Linked DNA regions of Homo sapiens: region 2 is linked to region 1. Evidence: fine-mapped QTL for protein levels in blood plasma. A gene starts in region 1. The other region holds a variant in brackets. All regions are shown on one strand. Distances are between the middles of the regions. Region 1 holds the start of EHD3 (EH domain containing 3). Region 2 overlaps EHD3 (EH domain containing 3).

Region 1 (8,329 bases):
AAGAATGCGGAAATAATTCCTGATACATTATCACCCCAAACTTTAATACCCCACTTTGTCTGCCTGTGTATTTTTAAATATCCCACGCTCATAGGTTCTGCCTTTATCAGGTTCTCTGTGCTCACAGACATTTTTGTAGTCATAGACTTATCTGTTATAACATATAAGGTTATAATAATTGGCCAACTACAGGTAATTCACATTTCTAATCTTTGTTTGCTTGTCAAAAGCCACATCAGGAATGAGTCAACTTCAGTGCCTGCACCAGCCCTGTGCAGGGTTAAAAGAGAGCTTTTCTCCTCAAGGTGCTTCCTCTATCTCCCCTGGCAAAGAGACAGACATGTAAACAACACTTACAGCCCGGGAAAGATGCTCAGGAACTGGTGCTGGTCCTGGGGTCCTTCAGCATGGATTTTTCTGCTTTTGGTGTTTCCCTTACCCAAGCGAGGCTGTTGAGTGGGATGGTGCAATCAAGATCCTGCTGGCAGGGACAGACAGATATATTTGGGTTTGGAACTAATAACTTGTTTCTGTTTTTGCACTGATCAAGCAGCTCAGAGCCCAGTGTGATGGCTGCTCACCTCTGGGGGCCTCCTGCTCATCTCCCTCTGATATTTCTGTACCATTCACCTGCCCATTCCCCTCATATCAGCTGCCTCAAGGGTTCATTTATTTTTTAGAATTCAAGGGATTTCGGTAAGCTGCCTCCCACTTTTTGTGGACTGAGGGGAAAGTGAGTAGGATGATAGATAGCTCAATCAAAGATGCCTGTGTGGGCAGTTTCCTACCTCTCTGCACCTGAGTTTCCCTCTGGGAAACATCCCTATCTTCCTCTTCAGGATTGCCATGAGGACTAGATGCCCACGCTCTGGAAACACCTGTGCTACAAAAGCAGACACTGACCATAATTAGGAGATTTTCGAATTATAGCTCACATCTTGCAGGTAGCAAATGTCTTGCCTTTGGAAGTTGAGGTTCTTAGAAGCAGGCATCTTATTAAAACCAGATACACACCGCTGCCTCTCGTGGTGTGGGCTTTCCTCCGTGTAATATTGGATTTCTCAGGTTAGCTCTGCTCCTGCTGCACCCAGGGATGAAACTGACTTTCTGCCAAGGAGAGCTGCTATGTATGAGACAGCCGCATTCCAGCAATTAAGTAGCTGTGGTACCGATGGTATGAATGGGGAGTGTTATTCCTGGACAGCCCATCAACTAGACTCAGACAGACCCTCTTTCTTCATCTCCTTTTTGGCTTATAAACTTCCTAAGCACAGTTCCCTCACCTGTGTATTTTTATTCTAGACTTCCCTTTCCTTGTGCACGTTCAGTACTCATTCATCCAAGGGGAAAGGGAACTATTTATTGAGCGCTTACTATAGACTTATAAAAACGTATCAGGTCCTTGACCTACATTGTTTCATTTTATCCCCACAACAACATTGTGAAGCGTCATTGGCACTTTTCTGCCTTTGGTGTTTCTCTTACCCTGGTTTCACTGATGAGGACCTTGTCATAAAAAGAGGTTTTAACTCGGCCTGATCTCATCAGTAGGAATTGGCTGAGCTGATGCACTTTCGCCTCCAACTGAAGTAAACAGAATGAGTACAGCACTGCGTCAGGCTGAAGACGTGCCCTGTCTAGTTGGAAGGCAAACAATTTAAACATGTAATTATAGTAACATGTGATGAATGCGGTAACAGAGGTTTACGTGGGGTAGCTTGGAAGTGGGGAGAGGGGCACAGCCTTCTTATGGGAGAGCTGCTGACTCAGCTCTTCAGAGGGCGGACCACCACACTGAGCCTTAAGGTATGAGTGGGTGCCCACCAGGCAGAGGGTGGGGAAGGGAAGACTGAGGCTGAAGACAGGGTGTGCAAAGGAGCCCGCGTGGTGAGGAGCAGGAAGCAGCTGTGGGAGGCACGCATGCGTGCATGGTTGTAGGCAGGTCACCAGGATGCAATGGTAGTTGGGCCAGGTTGAAAGGGGCCATAGATTCCTAAGATTATGGACACTTGGTCCCACTTCCCAATTCTTCTAACTCCCCTAGCCAGGGCTCAAACTTGTATTCCAGGTTGCTGCTACAGTTTCCATCTTCTCCCTTTACTTCTGGCCAGACTCTGGTGTTGTGGATGAGAAAGGGAAGTGTCTGTATCCACACCACCCTGAATGCACCCGATCTCATCTGATCTTGGAAGCTAAGGAGGGTTCGGCCTGAGTTAGTATCTGAGTGGGAGAAACAGAAGAGATGGAAAAGTCTTCTGTTTCATAGTGTCACCCCTAAGAACCCAGAGCAAACACCACAGATATCACTACTAAAAATTATATTCCTTTGAGTCAATGAGCCATCCTCAGTTAAGACACAAATGAAGTGAAAGAAGTTGCTCACTAACTTATTAGGTGCCAGCATATTAAATAGCTTATTAAATATTACAGCTATTAAATACTAAGCTTATTCAATAGTTTATTAAACAGCTTCTTAAATAGGATATAAGGCAGTGCCATGTAGTGGATAAAAGTAATAATCATTATAATATTAAGAACTAATACATACTGAACACTTTCAATGGCACTTTACATGCACGGTCCCTTTAATCCTGAAAAAATGCTATTGCCATCTTTATTTCAGAGACCAGGGTGCTAAGGCTTGAGAGTGAAGCCACTTTCCCCAAGCTCACACAGCAAAGACACGGGGACACCAGGACTCCATCTACTGCAGGTTGTCTGACTGGGAACCCCCATGCACCTGGCAGGTGACAGAAATAGGAGGCATGTGCTGGGTTTGGAAGAGACACCTGGTGGGAGAGGGCCCTGTGGAGCCAGATGGGGCTGAAAACAAATGTTGAATGCAAGAAAAGTCGAGTTCCAGGGGCATTACATGCAGCAGGATATGCTTTTTAGAAAAAGTCCAAAAACACTAAACTTCAACAATATGTTCTTTTGGCTTGCATTTGTGTATAACCGTAATTAAAAAGCAAGGGGACAACACACAGTAGATTCAGGATAGGGGTCCCCTCTAGAAAGAAGGAGAAGGGGCAGGAGACAGGATGGGGAGGAGCACATAAGTAGATGTAAATTGCTGCTAATTTTTCTAGTCCTTGGTTTGAATGATAGGTTCATCAAGGGTCCATTACAAAAACATGTGTTAAGTTTTTTAAAAATATAATAAAGGAGCCAGGTGTAGTTTGTCTTGAACCACAGTTATGAAAAAAATTCCAACTTTGTGCATCCAAGGACCAGATTTTTTTTAAAATAAAGGATAAAAGGAATAAGAAATGAACAGCCAAGTATTCACTATCAAATTTGAGGAATAATAGCCTGGCCAACATGGTGAAACTCCATCTCTACTAAAAATACAAAAATTAGCCAGGTGTGGTGGCTCATGCCTGTAGTCCCAGCTACTTGCGAGGCTGAGGCAGGCTGAGAATCTCTTGAACCCAGGAAGTAGAGGTTGCAGTAGGCCAAGATGGCGCCACTGCACTCCAGCCTGGGTGACAGAGCAAGACCCTATGTCCAAAAAAAAAAAAAAAAAAAAGGAAAAGAAAAAGAAAGAAAACAGTGTATATATAGTATATAGCTGAAGCTCCCTGTGTACCCATCCCCAATTCCATTTCCCTTTTTTGTCCCAGAGAACACCCCATTCCTGACTAGTGTTTTATGTTCCTTTGCTTCTCTTTTTAAAAACTTCAATGCACACATATGCATCCATGAACAACAGATAGTGGTTTTTGCATGACCTGAAACATTAATGAAATTGTATGATTCTATGCATAATAGCCTACTTCTGGCTTTATTCACTCAACACCATATTTTGGCATAGGTAGCACCACTTCCCTCATTTTTCTCATCTGTAGAGTATGTATTTTTTGTAACTTTCATTTTAGGTTCGGGGGTACATGTGAAGGTTTGTTATATAGGTAAACTAGTGTCATGGAGGTCTGTTGTACAGATGATTTCATCACCCAGGTGTTAAGTCTAGTAACCAATAGTTCTTGCTTTTTGTTCCTCTCCTTCCTCCCACCCTCCACCCTCAACTAGACCCCAGTGTGGTATATATTTTATATGAATGTGGCACATTTATCCATTTACTCGGTGAAGGACATTTAGTTGTTTATAAATTTTTGCTGCTACAAATAATGTTGCCATCAACATTCTTAAGACTTATCTCCCTATGCACATGTGCAAGAGTTTCTCTAGATCACGCCTTGAAATAGAATGGAAGGAGATAGGTCATAGGACATGCACATCTTCAGCTTCACTAAGCAATGCCAAACTGTTTCCCAAAGTATTTGTGCCAGCCTGCACGCCCATCAGCATTTTATGAGAGCTCCCATTGCTCTACATCCTCACCAACCCTACCATCCAACTTTTTATTCTTGCCATTTTGGTGGGTATGGAGTGTTAGTGTGGTTTGGCATTTCTCTAATTACTAATGAGATGCAACATGTTTTCTTGCGTTTATAGGGCATTCATGTAGCCTCTTGTAAAAGACATTTTTGTAGCTCTTGCCAAGTTTTTTTCTATTGGAATGTTTGTCTTTGTTATCGATGCACAGCCATTAGTTCTATATTCTGGATGTGCTTTCATGGGTTTTTGTGTATAGGAAATATCTTTTCACTCACTTTTGTATTTTTAGTTGAACGAAAGTTTTAAATTTTGCTAGTGCTAAACTTAGTTTTTTTCATTTTTCAGTTTGTGCTTCTGACGTCTTGTTTAAAGAACTCTTCCTGACTTTGTGGTGATATATATGCAATCTCTATTGCAACTTCTGTATATGTCAGGCTTCCAAATTTCCTGGCTATTTACTGTGTTGTTATTCTGTTGGTCTCTGTGCCAAAACCATATTAACCACTGTAACTCCATAACAATGTCCACTAGGGCAAGTCCTCTTCGCTTAGTTGTTGCCATTGCTATGTTACTGTTGTCCTCTTCTCTTCTCTGTTCTCCTTTTTCTGCCCTCCTTCCCCTTCCACCTCTCCCTCTCCTCCTCCTTATTCTTCTTATCTTCTTTCTTCTCCTGGAATATCTAAGCTTTTTTTTACTATTGCTCTATAAGTTATACATTTTAGAATCACCTTGTCAATTTCCATGGAAAACCTTATTTAGATTTTGATTTCAATCATATCTCTCAATTATTGAATTTATCAATCATGTTGTAAAGAATTCACATGTTTGTGACAAGGAATCCTTCCACAATGGAACATGGCATGTCTCTCCCATTTACTTAGAACTTCTTTAACATCTTTCTATAAAGTTTTATTATTTTTCACATAAAGATCTTGCATATCTTTTGTCAGATTTATCCGTAAGTTTTTGTTCTTTTGAACACAGTATCTTTTTTGAATATTATCTTTCATGACCTTTTATTGCTAGTCTATAGAAATGCTCCATTAGTTCCTTTTTTAAACAGATAGATTTCAACTACTCAAGACTGAGACGGGAGTAGATGTGTCAACACGCACTTGGTAAATTAGATATTCGGAACAGACATTCAGCAGTAGACAATGGCATGGCCGTACTGATTACAAAATTCTTGAAATACTTCCATAATGGGGCCCCTTGATTTCTTTCCTGTCACGCTGGCCATACTGACCTCTCTCCGGGGACAGGCTCAGATCTCTCCAAGGTCCAGACGCCACTGTATTAACACCAGGCGTGGCACGGGGCCGCAAGCCTTGCTCCACTAGGAAGGCCAGTGTCTGTTCCGGGTGTTTGATTCTCATGCCTTGTGAGTTGTTAAATATCTTTAATATTACTCCTTAGGTTCGTATGTTGGTAGTAGCTAAACACCAAGGGTGAAATATTAATCTGAGTGAATTCTCAACAAGAGATGATCAGTTTTGGGGTTCAAGGAGGGAGTCGGGAGATCTGAGATGTAACTAAGGAGATTCTATTCAGCACTGGCCTCTGATAATCCCCCCTCCCCTGAAATCCCTGCAGCTTCACCACACTCCTCTTGAAGCTCCTGCAGGCACTTCAAACGCAACACGTTTTAGATTGAACACATTATCTCTGTCTGCTAAATCAGCTCTCTCTCTGCCTCCCCTAATTAGTGGAAGAGCTTCTCCAATGATCTTATCCCCTATGGTAGAAAATTCAAAATCATCCTAGACTGTGCCTCACCCTTATGTCCTCTTTTTTTTATCACATACCAAGATCTGACAATTCTATTCCATGAAAAAAATCTTTTGAGTCTGACCTCTTCTCCAATCCCATTGCAGCTGTCTCCTAAGTTTTGGAATAGTTTCCTAAATGGTCTCTTGGCCTCTGTATTCGTCTGTTTTCACACTGCTGTGAAGAAATACCTAAGACTGGGTAATTTATAAAGGAAAAAGGTTTAATTAACTCACAGTTCTGCATGCCTAGAGAGGCCTCAGGAAACTTACAGTCATGGCATAAAGGGAAGCAAACACGTCCTTCATAAGGCGGCAGGAGAGAGAAGTATGAGGAACCAAGTGGGAAGAGCCCCTTATAAAACCATCAGCTCTCACGAGAACTCACTCACTATCATGAGAACAGCATGAATGAAACTGTCCCTATGATCCAATCTCCTCCCACCAGCTCTCTCCCTAAACGCATGGGGATTATGGGGATTACAATTAGAGATGAGATTTATGCGGGGACACAAAGCAAAACCATATCAACCCCCAACCTCTTTTGCCCCTCCAACACTGCTCTTGGCATTCCAGTTCCTGCCTGGTCCATAGCCTACTCCTTCTTCATCTGTGGAAGGGAGGGTAGTGGGAGTCATTAGCCTGGGCAGGGAGGAGTGTTTTATCACTACACTGTTTAGAATGGTGCCAATACAAAGCACATCAACTTTCAGCAAGTTTATTATTGGGTTTAAATTCTCTACACACGATGCACTGCTTTTGCCTACACCTGGACAGTGTTCCCACTCACTCTCCTTAGTATGATGCTGGAGATAATATGATCTGCCATGAAGGTTAAATAAAGCAATGTTCACTGAGAACTTAGCCCAGGCCCCTGCACATGCTGAGCATTTTGTTAATGTAACAATGATTAGTAATAGCATTGCTATTGGTTCCCCATCTCTGGCAAAGCCTTTCATGCTTGGCCTCCCTCACTCTCTTTCACCTTCCTAAACCCTACACTCCAGCTATGCCAAACTGTTTACTCTGCCTTGGACACACCAAGTTCCTCAAGCCTTTGCAAATACTCCTTACGCTCCTAGAACAATGGATGTCAATTCATCATTTAGGATCCAGCTTACAGTCATGCTTTCCATGAAGCCTTCCTCAAATTAGCCACACAAAAGGAGTGACTCCTCCCTGTATTCCCATGACCCTCTGCTCATGCCTCCTCTTTAAAGCCTGCCTTCACTGGAGTTCCTGGAAGGGAGAGTCTGTTCAGCACTCATCTCTGTATCCACAGTCACCAAAATTGTAACTGCCCCATAATAAATTCCCAATACTTGCAGGGATTTTGCTTCTTGGCTTGTTTTGTTTTGCTGGAATGAATGAATAAGTAAATGGGAACGATTTTGACTTCACCCTAAGCCTAGCTAAAAGTTTGGGTAGTGACAGTTTTGGTTATTTTGTGTAACCTGATAGTGGATCCCCTTTCTATGCCAAAAAAAAAAAAAATCCCCCAATACTAGAGTACCTGTTTTCCTAGGGAATTGACCTCAGCAACTGAAGGAGAGGCGATTCAAAGCAGGGAGTGTGATGAATAGGTCAACTCTGTCCTCGCAGCCGTCCCTGAGAGGGCGCTGTTCCCAAATCGAAGCCCCAGAGGCGGAGACTGAGACACCGGCACTCTCCCACTGGACTGGGTCAGCATCCCTCTCCCCGCGCGGCCGCAGGTCTAGAGCTGAGCGCCTGCCCACAAACATGGCGGCGCCCTGCGCGGCTTCCCGTCGCCGCAACCGTGGGGCCGGCCCTGCCTTGCCAGTACTAGGGGACTTCCTCTGCGCGCCGGCTTCCTGCCCAGCTGGCATTTAAACCACCGCCTGGGGCTGCAGGATGCTGCTGCGGATGCAGAGCTGTCCGCGGGCTGGGCAGCGTCGCCGTCTCCCCTGAGCCGCCTCGGTCCGGCAGGAGCGGAGCCGAAGCATCCCTTGCTGCACGCAGGGCAGAGCAGGCGAGGGCTGGGGGCCGATCGGGGACCCCGGCTTGGGACCCCGGCATCTGGCAGTTTCCTTGCAGGTTCAACTTTAATTGCCAAGATTTCACCCCTCCTCCTCAAGCCCAGATTATTTATCCTCCCTCCGGCCTGGGCTGCTGGATGCAGCAGCGGCTGGGCTTGGTCCCAGGAGCAGGGAGAGTGCGCTCCCGGCCCTCCTAGCCGCGTGCCCGGGCCATGGTGCGGCTGA
Region 2 (8,329 bases), 27 kb after region 1:
GCCTGTTCTGCAAAGTGAGCTGCTTCCCAGGGCTCCAAGACCTCAGGCTTCACAGGAAGGAGCACTCGGGCCCCAGGCTGGACTAGGGCGGCAAAGGGTCGTCCTTGCTCAGGGTGTGGACCCTCTACTGGGCCTGGGGCGGGGTGTGTCTTGTGGGAAGAAGGCTGGGGTGCCCGGGAAGCTGATTCTGGGAGGTCCTGGGCCAGCACTTGTCTCTGGATGCAGATGCATTGGGGTGGGCAGGGGAGGAAGACAGGGAGGTGGTTCCTGGAAGTGGCAGGATGTGCCCCAGCCTGGCTCATTACTGGGAAGAAGTGAGGATGCAGCAGGAGTGGGAGGGCTCCAGAAGGCTGAGTGTCCTGAGCTTAGGAACCACATTTCCTGGCTGCTTCCCAGCTAGAAATCCCCATAGGCGCCACCTTAGGAAAGCAGGGCGGGGCTTTGTGCTCACATCACAGACTGCACAGCTTGAAGCTCCTCCCCACAGGCCCCTTTCTGCACAGGTGAGCTCAGTAAGGCCAGAGCAGGTTGAAAATTTGCCCGGATCACACATCTAGGGAACTCGGGTCTTCCTATTCCTGGTCCACGGCTTCTCAGCACATTATCATCACCTGCCCCGGAAGAGCACAGGGGGTAGGAATGAGGGCAAACCTCTCATCTCCAGGTTTCCTCTAGGGGTCTTTAGGGCTCAGACCTTGGCAGGTCTGGGCTGATCCTTGCAGCCTCACATTCCTAGCCCATCCAGGGCACCCTCATTGGAGCAGAGCCTGCACTTAAAGGCCTCTGGGTCTTCCCAGACTACGTGCCGGTACAGGCACGCCTGTGTGGGCGCTCCTGTGCCTGGGCAGAGCAGCCGAGTCCTGACGCCCTTCAAAAGGCCTTGCCAACCATCTGCTCGGGCCGCTCTTTGCCGTTACTTCTGGGAAGCATCTAATGTGGCATTTCTTCCCCGTTGTCAGCCAAACTCTTCCCACATTTTGGAAATTGATGCCTTGTTATTCCTCTTTTGCTCAAATGCCTTTAAATCTTGACGGAGATTTTTTTGGGGAGGGATGGGGTTTTGTATGTACCCACCGCAAGTAAGTGCCTGGTTTGAGGGCTCAGCCTCTGAGCTTCAGGCTCACATGGCTGTGAGCTGTTATAGAAAGAGAATGTGGGCTGCAAGTCAAGGAGCTGGGTTCCAGGCCTGAGTTTGCCACCACCTGGCTGTGTGAGCTTGGGCAAGCCCCTTAATCTCTTTGTGTCCAGATTCCCTGTCCTGTAAGATGTGTATGCCCTACTTACCTCCTGGGATACAGAGAATTATGAAGAGCGAATGAGGTCACGTGGCTGGAAACCCGAAGAAGTATGCTGCCCTGTGAGGGCCCAGGCACTGCATGCCAGGCCATGATGGAAGCCGGCGGGTGAGGAAGGGGTGGCTTTCCTTACTGTGTTTGTCTGATTGATTTCCTCTTGCCTGGCATTACTTCAAAGTGCTTTCTTTCCAGTCATCTGGAGCCTCCGGTTGGAGGGGACCATAGATCCCTGCAGGCTGCCCAGTCTCCAGGCCCGGAGCTGGCTGACTAGACCTCTTAGAGCCAGCAGACTTGTGCTATGAAGTCCAGGAAGGGCAGCTTCTCTGCTCTGTCTCTTGGGGCTTGAATCTCCCCCGACTCACTAGTCCATATTTCATGAACACTTGGGCTGCCGCAGGTGCCCAAGAGCTACCGTTGTGGGTCTCAGAGCCATCGCTGGGACCAGAGAGGGGAAGGGGGCCTGTCACTGGCCATAGCACTCACCGCAGCTGCTGAGGCAGTCTGTGCTGTCAGATCTTGTTGCCACAGCTCTACCACAGAGTCCTCATTCAGCTCTACCACAGACCCCTCATTCAGTCATTTGTTATCCCTATTTTGCAGCTGAGAAAATTGAGGTTCAGATTTGCCAAATAAATGAGAAAGCTAATCCTATACCATACCCTTTTTCTTACTGGGTCCAGTCCATACCTTTGAGATACCGCCATTCCTAGATCTGCACCTAAGTCCAGGCCAAGTGAACAACTAAATATCCACCCTACAGATGACACAGCCTCGGGGTTAGCCAGGAGCAGGGAAGTCGAGCTTCAGAGCAACCCATGGAGTCATTGCTTGATGGTCATGGTCTTCACAGCCACACCTGGCTGGAAGCTTCTGGCATTACTGAGTCTGTAATTGGATAGCAGCTTTCCAGAGCAAATAGGAGGCCTCTGCTTATAAAATCACGGAAAGAGTTCCCAGAAGCCCTTGGCCTGTCCTCAGGCAGAGGCAGACTTCACACAGGCATCCCCGAGGCCTGTAAGACAGCAGCCTGCAGCCTCTCTCTCTTGCTGTGCCTGCAAAGGGTCCCTTGTAGCTAATCTCCATCCATCCTGTTGTACTCCCCACCCTCACACCTCTGGTCTCAGATGCAGAGAATTGTGAACCGAGAAAGGAAGCTCGGAGGTTGTCCAGCTCAATCCCCTGATTTGACAGGCAAAGAGACAGAGGACTAGAGAGGGGAGATTCTTGCCCAAGGACACACAGTAAGTTAGTGGCTAAGCGGAAACGAGAGGTGGACTCACCCAGGCCAGTGCTCCTCTGGTGACTCCTACAGAGCACATCCCATCTCATAGAAACTAGGGCTTAAAAGGAGTGCTTTACAAAAAACAGCAGGGCAATGAGAACAGCCAAGGTCACAGCTCAGCAGTTTCACCTGCATCCTCTGATTTGTTTAGATCCTCACAATAACCCTACGACTGAGTCACTGATTCCTCAACCATAAAACTGAGGCCCAGAGATTACTCATTTACTGTCTCCCAGATGCCAAACGTGGAACAGGTTTCCACGTTTTCCACGTTTCACTTCCGTTCAGCAAATACTGATAGTGCACCTGCTGTGTGCCACACACCGTGCTGGGTGCAGGGGAAGCCCAGAAGGGTGAGGTGCTGCCCCTGCCCTGTCCAGCTCCCAGTGCACCGAGGATGATTTCAGTGAGCTGAAGAGCAGAACAGGAGCGTGCATGATGCTACAAGACCACTGAGGGCAGGGACAGGGATAGGCAGGGGTCTATCCTGTTCTGGCAGCATGGACATATTGCTGCCCCTCAGCCTTTGCAGACACAGCCTTCTCTTACATCGCTGGTGTCATCAGGGATTGCAGCAAGTTGCAGGGACAGAGCCTCTTCCCTTCTCTGCAGCTTCTCTGGTGTCTTTGTTTTCCCCAGCCTGGTGGAGGCGTGGCTACAGTGCAAGAGTTGAGTTTGGAGTTCAGGTCTTGGCTCTGACCCCCAGCATTGCATGGCCTTGGGCCTTTCTCTCACCCTCTATAAACCTCCATTACCTTGTCAGCATAGGACTCAACACTGGCTGCCCTGGCTGCCTTAGCCTGTTCTGAGCCATTGAGCCAATATATTGGGGCTGAGATTTGCTGGACAGGTGAGAGGGAGCTGCAGCCCAGTCTTGGTCCTCCCAGCAGCCCCTCCTGTGGCCTGCACTGGCACAGCTAAAATCCAGATTGGGGAATAAGGAGCAGCAGAAGGCCAGAGGCCTGGCAGGGAGTTGTGGAGGGTCCCTACTGCCCTCCTGCTGTGAGCTGTTTGCAGAGGTGGGGGTTGGGGATTTTCTTAGCCCTCTGGCCCCTCCCTACCCACAGCTCTGAGGGACTGCCTTTGGGAGGTGACAGCAGCCTTGCCATGCGCTGTGCTGAAGGGAAGATAAAAATAGGCTGGAGCCATCCCTGGGAAGGGAAGGATGGACAGAGGGATGTAGGAAGGAGGGGAGTAGTGCGGGCTGCAGGCTTCACCTGAAGTGGGAATGCTTAGGCTTCCCGGGCTCCAGTGAGGAGCTGGCTGTGCCTGCGTGCCAGGGAGGGAGGGAGGGAGGCAGGGAGCGGCCAGGTGCAGAACGGCTGGATGGCTGACAGCTGGGTCATCTGGCCTCACGACTTGCCAACTGTTTGACTCTCTCCTCTCTGAACCTCAGTTTCCTCCCCTGGAAGTGAGAACGATACTCCTCGCGCTGCCTGCCTCAGAGCGTGTCGTGAGGGTGACATGAGATAATGACATGAACATCTTACCGTCTGCAGCAAGCACTGAACTTCGAGTTGGAGGCTAGGGGTCGTGTCTCATGGGTGGTATTGGCTGAGTCACTTAACTCCTAGAGTTTGCGTGAACATCTCCGAGGGAGGGTTGATGATGCCCCTGCCCACTGGGCAGAGCAGCCTCTGAAGCACTTTCCTGGGCCTTGTCTCTGAGCCGAGACAGGACACCTGTGTTCAAAAGAGAAGGCAAAATCTAGTTCACACCAGGCCCTCGATGACGCACCCATCAGGAACTATCCTCAGGATGGCACCTGGAGATACTGGGCCAGCTCTGCCCCTTCCTGAGCCTCAGTTTCCCTATCTGTAAATCAGGAAGTTGGACCATTGATGGCTAAGCTCCTCGTAGCCTCATAGGTCTACGCCACAGGAGCAGGGGGAGAAGGCTCAGGTGTTAGTTGAGCTGTATATTCATTGAGCAGCT[G/A]ACAGATCTTGGAGAAAATCACATGGCAATGGGAATGCTTGGAAGCACTTCATTTACCAAAGACAGAGGAGCTGAAAATGGAGTAGTACTGGCATCCGGGTAACCAAAGGAGGGTTTGACCTTCCTTTGTTTGTTAGAATTCTCTTACAGCCACCAGGGAAACATTACAGGGGTCCTCCAGGAAGCTTTAGGGCAGCAAGTTTTCCCGACCGTCTGATCCCATCCCCCTACCCCCTGTGGCAGTGCCTCCACACGTCCTAAATATGTACCCCACTGGGTGTTCACTAGATGCCACAGGGTGGGGGAAAGGCTTTTTAAACCTAGCTCCGTTGGCTCCATTCATCCTCATCCCCCACCCCATCGATGCCTGCTACTTAGTCTGAAATGACAGCCTTTGAAAGTGAAAGCCAACTCGGTGCAGTGGTTCATAGCACTGACTCCAGGGCTACCTTCCTGGACTTGAGTCCCAGCCCATTGCTTACCAGCTGGGTGACCTTAGACAAGTTCCTTTATCTGTTTGTATCTCTGGTTACTCCTCAGAGAAGTGGGGCTGATATTAGTGTCTAATGACCCTACACAGAGTCATCGTGAGGATTAAAGGAATGAATGATTATAAAGTACTTAGGTCAGTGCTGAACACCTTTTGAATGCTATTGTTATTTTTATGGGCCAGTGGTATTCAAAGTGTGGCCCTTGGACCAACAGCATCAGAATCTCCTGGGAGCTTGTTAGAAATGCTCTGCGCCAGACCTACTGAATCAGAAACTTTGGGGATAGAGTCCAACCATCTGGGTTTTAAGAAGCCCTGGGGGGATTCTGATGGAGGCTAAGTCAGGACCCCTGTTAAAGACAGTCAGAGCTTCTTAAGTCTGACTCACTCACAAGGCAGTTGCCTGATGATCTTGCCTGGTCTCTAGCCTCCCTCTGTGAGGCAGGGCAGGCTTTTTCCTAATGATTTGGTTTCCCATTCGATGGTGGCAATGAGCTTTGGGTCCCCAGTGTGTGTCACCTTGGAACCCTTGTGCTATGGGGAGCCAGGATGGTTGGTCACTTTAGTACCCAAGAAAGGGCTCCTACCTTGGTGCCAGAGGTATGCCACGGGGGAGTGGCAGGAGGAGAGGCTGAGAACCCTGCTCAGACTCAGAATGGGAAAGCCTAACACCTCCATCTTCATGCGACTGCTGCTGCTCATGGGCTGTGTGCCCTTCGACAAATCACTTGACTTCTCTGAGCCCCACTTCCTTATCTCTTGTCTTCCTATTTTATGTAAGAGGAGCCTGAGACACAGAGGTAAGACCTACTGGGGCTCTGGGTGTCAGTGAATGTATAGACTATTGGTCCACCCTCCTACTTCAGCTCCTACTGGATCCACAGCTACTTGGGATTGAGCAGAACAACTTCTCTGGGGCTCCTGTAACCAGTCTGACCTAAAGCAGCTTAGTGCTAGATAACCAAGATGCGGGTGGCCAGAGTTCCAGTCACATCCTAAGGAAGAAACCCCTTGTGGTTTCAAGAGTTGGGAATTTTGTGCTGCAGCTGATTACAAAGGAAAGAGCCTGAGTGAGAACAAGATGTTTTTATAACAAGAATTGCAGATTTCTTCCAGACCAGTGACAGGCATGGTCTGAACCATCATCAGTATCTACTTTTTAGTGTTTCATTGTTTTCAGACCTTAGAAAGAATTTCTGGGTCTTTGTGTCAGATTAGGTGTCCAGACTTTCTTTTCCAGCGGGCTGCTAAATACAGTAAGCACGGATAGGGGAGCTGGTATGGAAATAATGACGTTAATAAGAGTTACTAGGCCAGGCGCAGTGGCTGGCTGGGGGCGGTGGCTCACACCTATAATCCCAGCACTTTGGGAGGCCAAGGCAGGCGCATCACCTGAGGTCAGGAGTTCAAGACTCAGCCTGGCTAACATGGTTAAACCTGTCTCTACTAAAAACACAAAAATTAGACGGGCATGGTGGCGCATGCCTGTAATCCCAGCTACTCGGGAGGCTGAGGCAGGAAAATCACTTGACCCCAGGAGGCAGAGGTTGCAGTGAGCAGAGGCAGTGCCACTACACTCCAGCCTGGGTGAGAGAGCAAGACTCCGTCTCAAAAAAAAAAGTAACTAGCATTTACTGAGCACCTACTAAGTGCCGGATTCTAAGAGTATTTAATCTTCATAGTTCTATTAACTAGGTATTCATATTATTTTAGTATTTAACAGTATTTTTAGACGAAAAAAATTCTATGAGACATTGAGTAATTTGCTGGAGTCCAAACAGTTAAAATGTGGAGGAGCCAGGATTTAAACTTAGATCTGACTCCCAAGACTGTGTTATTTCTACCACACCCGACTGCTTCTCCAAACCCCTACCCTATACCCCAAAGGCCCCAGCCCCTGATTGTCCCTCTGCCGGCAGGGTATGACTTTGCAGCTGTCCTTGAGTGGTTTGCCGAGCGGGTTGACCGCATCATTCTGCTCTTCGATGCCCACAAACTGGACATCTCTGATGAGTTCTCAGAAGTCATCAAAGCCCTCAAGAACCACGAGGACAAGATGCGAGTGGTGCTGAACAAAGCTGACCAGATCGAGACGCAGCAGCTGATGCGGGTGTACGGGGCCCTCATGTGGTCCTTGGGGAAGATCGTGAACACCCCAGAGGTGATCCGGGTCTACATCGGCTCCTTCTGGTCCCACCCCCTCCTCATCCCTGACAACCGGAAGCTCTTTGAGGCTGAGGAACAGGACCTATTCAGGGACATCCAGAGTCTGCCCCGAAATGCTGCCCTGCGCAAGCTCAACGACCTCATCAAAAGGGCCAGGCTGGCCAAGGTGAGGCAGCCCCCTGGGAGGTGGGCAGCTTGGGCAGGGGCCCAGAGTTTGGGGTCAGCTGCACGAGCTGAGGGTTGCTGCCTCCAACAGCCAGTGCATCATGTGTGTGACACCAAGGGGCAGGACAGTGCGGGAGCCATGGTTACAAGCTCTCAGGTCAGATGGCCAGATTGGAACTGACTCCATTGTTTACTGTCTGTGGGATTCCCAGCCTTGGCAAGGCCTTTAGTCTCTCTGTGCCTCTGTTTGCATCTGTAAAATGAAGGGGTTGTTGGAGGATAAAGTGAAATAAAGAGTCTCAAAGCCCTCATCACAGTGTCTGGCACCTTCAGAGATGCTCAGCAACTGTCAGCTGCTGGTATTGCCTTCAGCAGCAGCAACATGACCACCTCACCCTGCCTTGACCATAGCTCCCCACAACCTCACCTTGCCCACATAACATAGAAAAACAGCCCAGCCCTGCAAGCAACATGGAGCCATGAGGGTAGAGGTAGAAATTATTTCAAAAGTAGGAGCAGGAGGAGGCGGGAGGGATGTAGGGGAAGGAATGATGCAAGAGCCATCCTAGAAGGAAGGGACCGTCCAGGGTCTTGATGTGAAGGCTTCTCTCTGGCCCTGTTTGTCAGGTCCACGCCTACATCATCAGCTCTCTGAAGAAGGAGATGCCCTCGGTGTTCGGGAAGGACAACAAGAAGAAGGAGCTGGTCAACAACCTGGCCGAGATCTATGGCCGGATCGAGCGGGAGCACCAGATCTCACCTGGGGACTTCCCCAATCTGAAGAGGATGCAGGTAGCGAGGGCTGGGGTCTCTAAGACAAGGGACAGTGTCCCGAGAGCTGGCTGAGCAGCCTGAGTATGGAGGAGGCCACTCTTGGAGCCCCCCAGGGAGAACCCCGCCCAGAATCTGCAGGCAAGGAGGTGGCCCTGGATCTACACTCCTAGCTGGGCCATCACTGGCCCAACAGGGGCCATGTCTGGGCCTGGGGAGAAACAC

Evidence for each region. A credible set is the group of variants that fine-mapping cannot tell apart. PIP is the posterior inclusion probability: the model's chance that the variant is causal. The UK Biobank Pharma Proteomics Project read protein levels with antibody pairs (Olink). The fine-mapping took linkage between variants from a reference panel, not from the people measured, so its PIPs are less certain.
Region 2: its variant is the best candidate, but not a certain one, in a credible set for the plasma level of the EHD3 protein (UK Biobank, PIP 0.53).

The regions. Positions count from the first base shown.
Region 1 is chr2:31,226,171-31,234,499 of GRCh38, forward strand. EHD3 (EH domain containing 3) reads left to right here and starts at 7,982. Exons shown (of 6, transcript NM_014600.3): 1 at 7,982-8,329. It also overlaps a transcript of CAPN14 not described here and the pseudogene RNA5SP90.
Region 2 is chr2:31,253,589-31,261,917 of GRCh38, forward strand. EHD3 (EH domain containing 3) reads left to right here. Exons shown (of 6, transcript NM_014600.3): 4 at 6,922-7,334; 5 at 7,961-8,125. It overlaps LOC124905983 (a long non-coding RNA gene), which reads right to left. Exons shown (of 4, transcript XR_007086270.1): 2 at 4,068-4,259. Among named protein-coding and RNA genes, the nearest start is that of EHD3, 24 kb to the left of the region's middle. RefSeq lists enhancers at 2,619-3,446, 3,532-3,581. The variant G/A (reference allele first, on the strand shown) is at 4,513.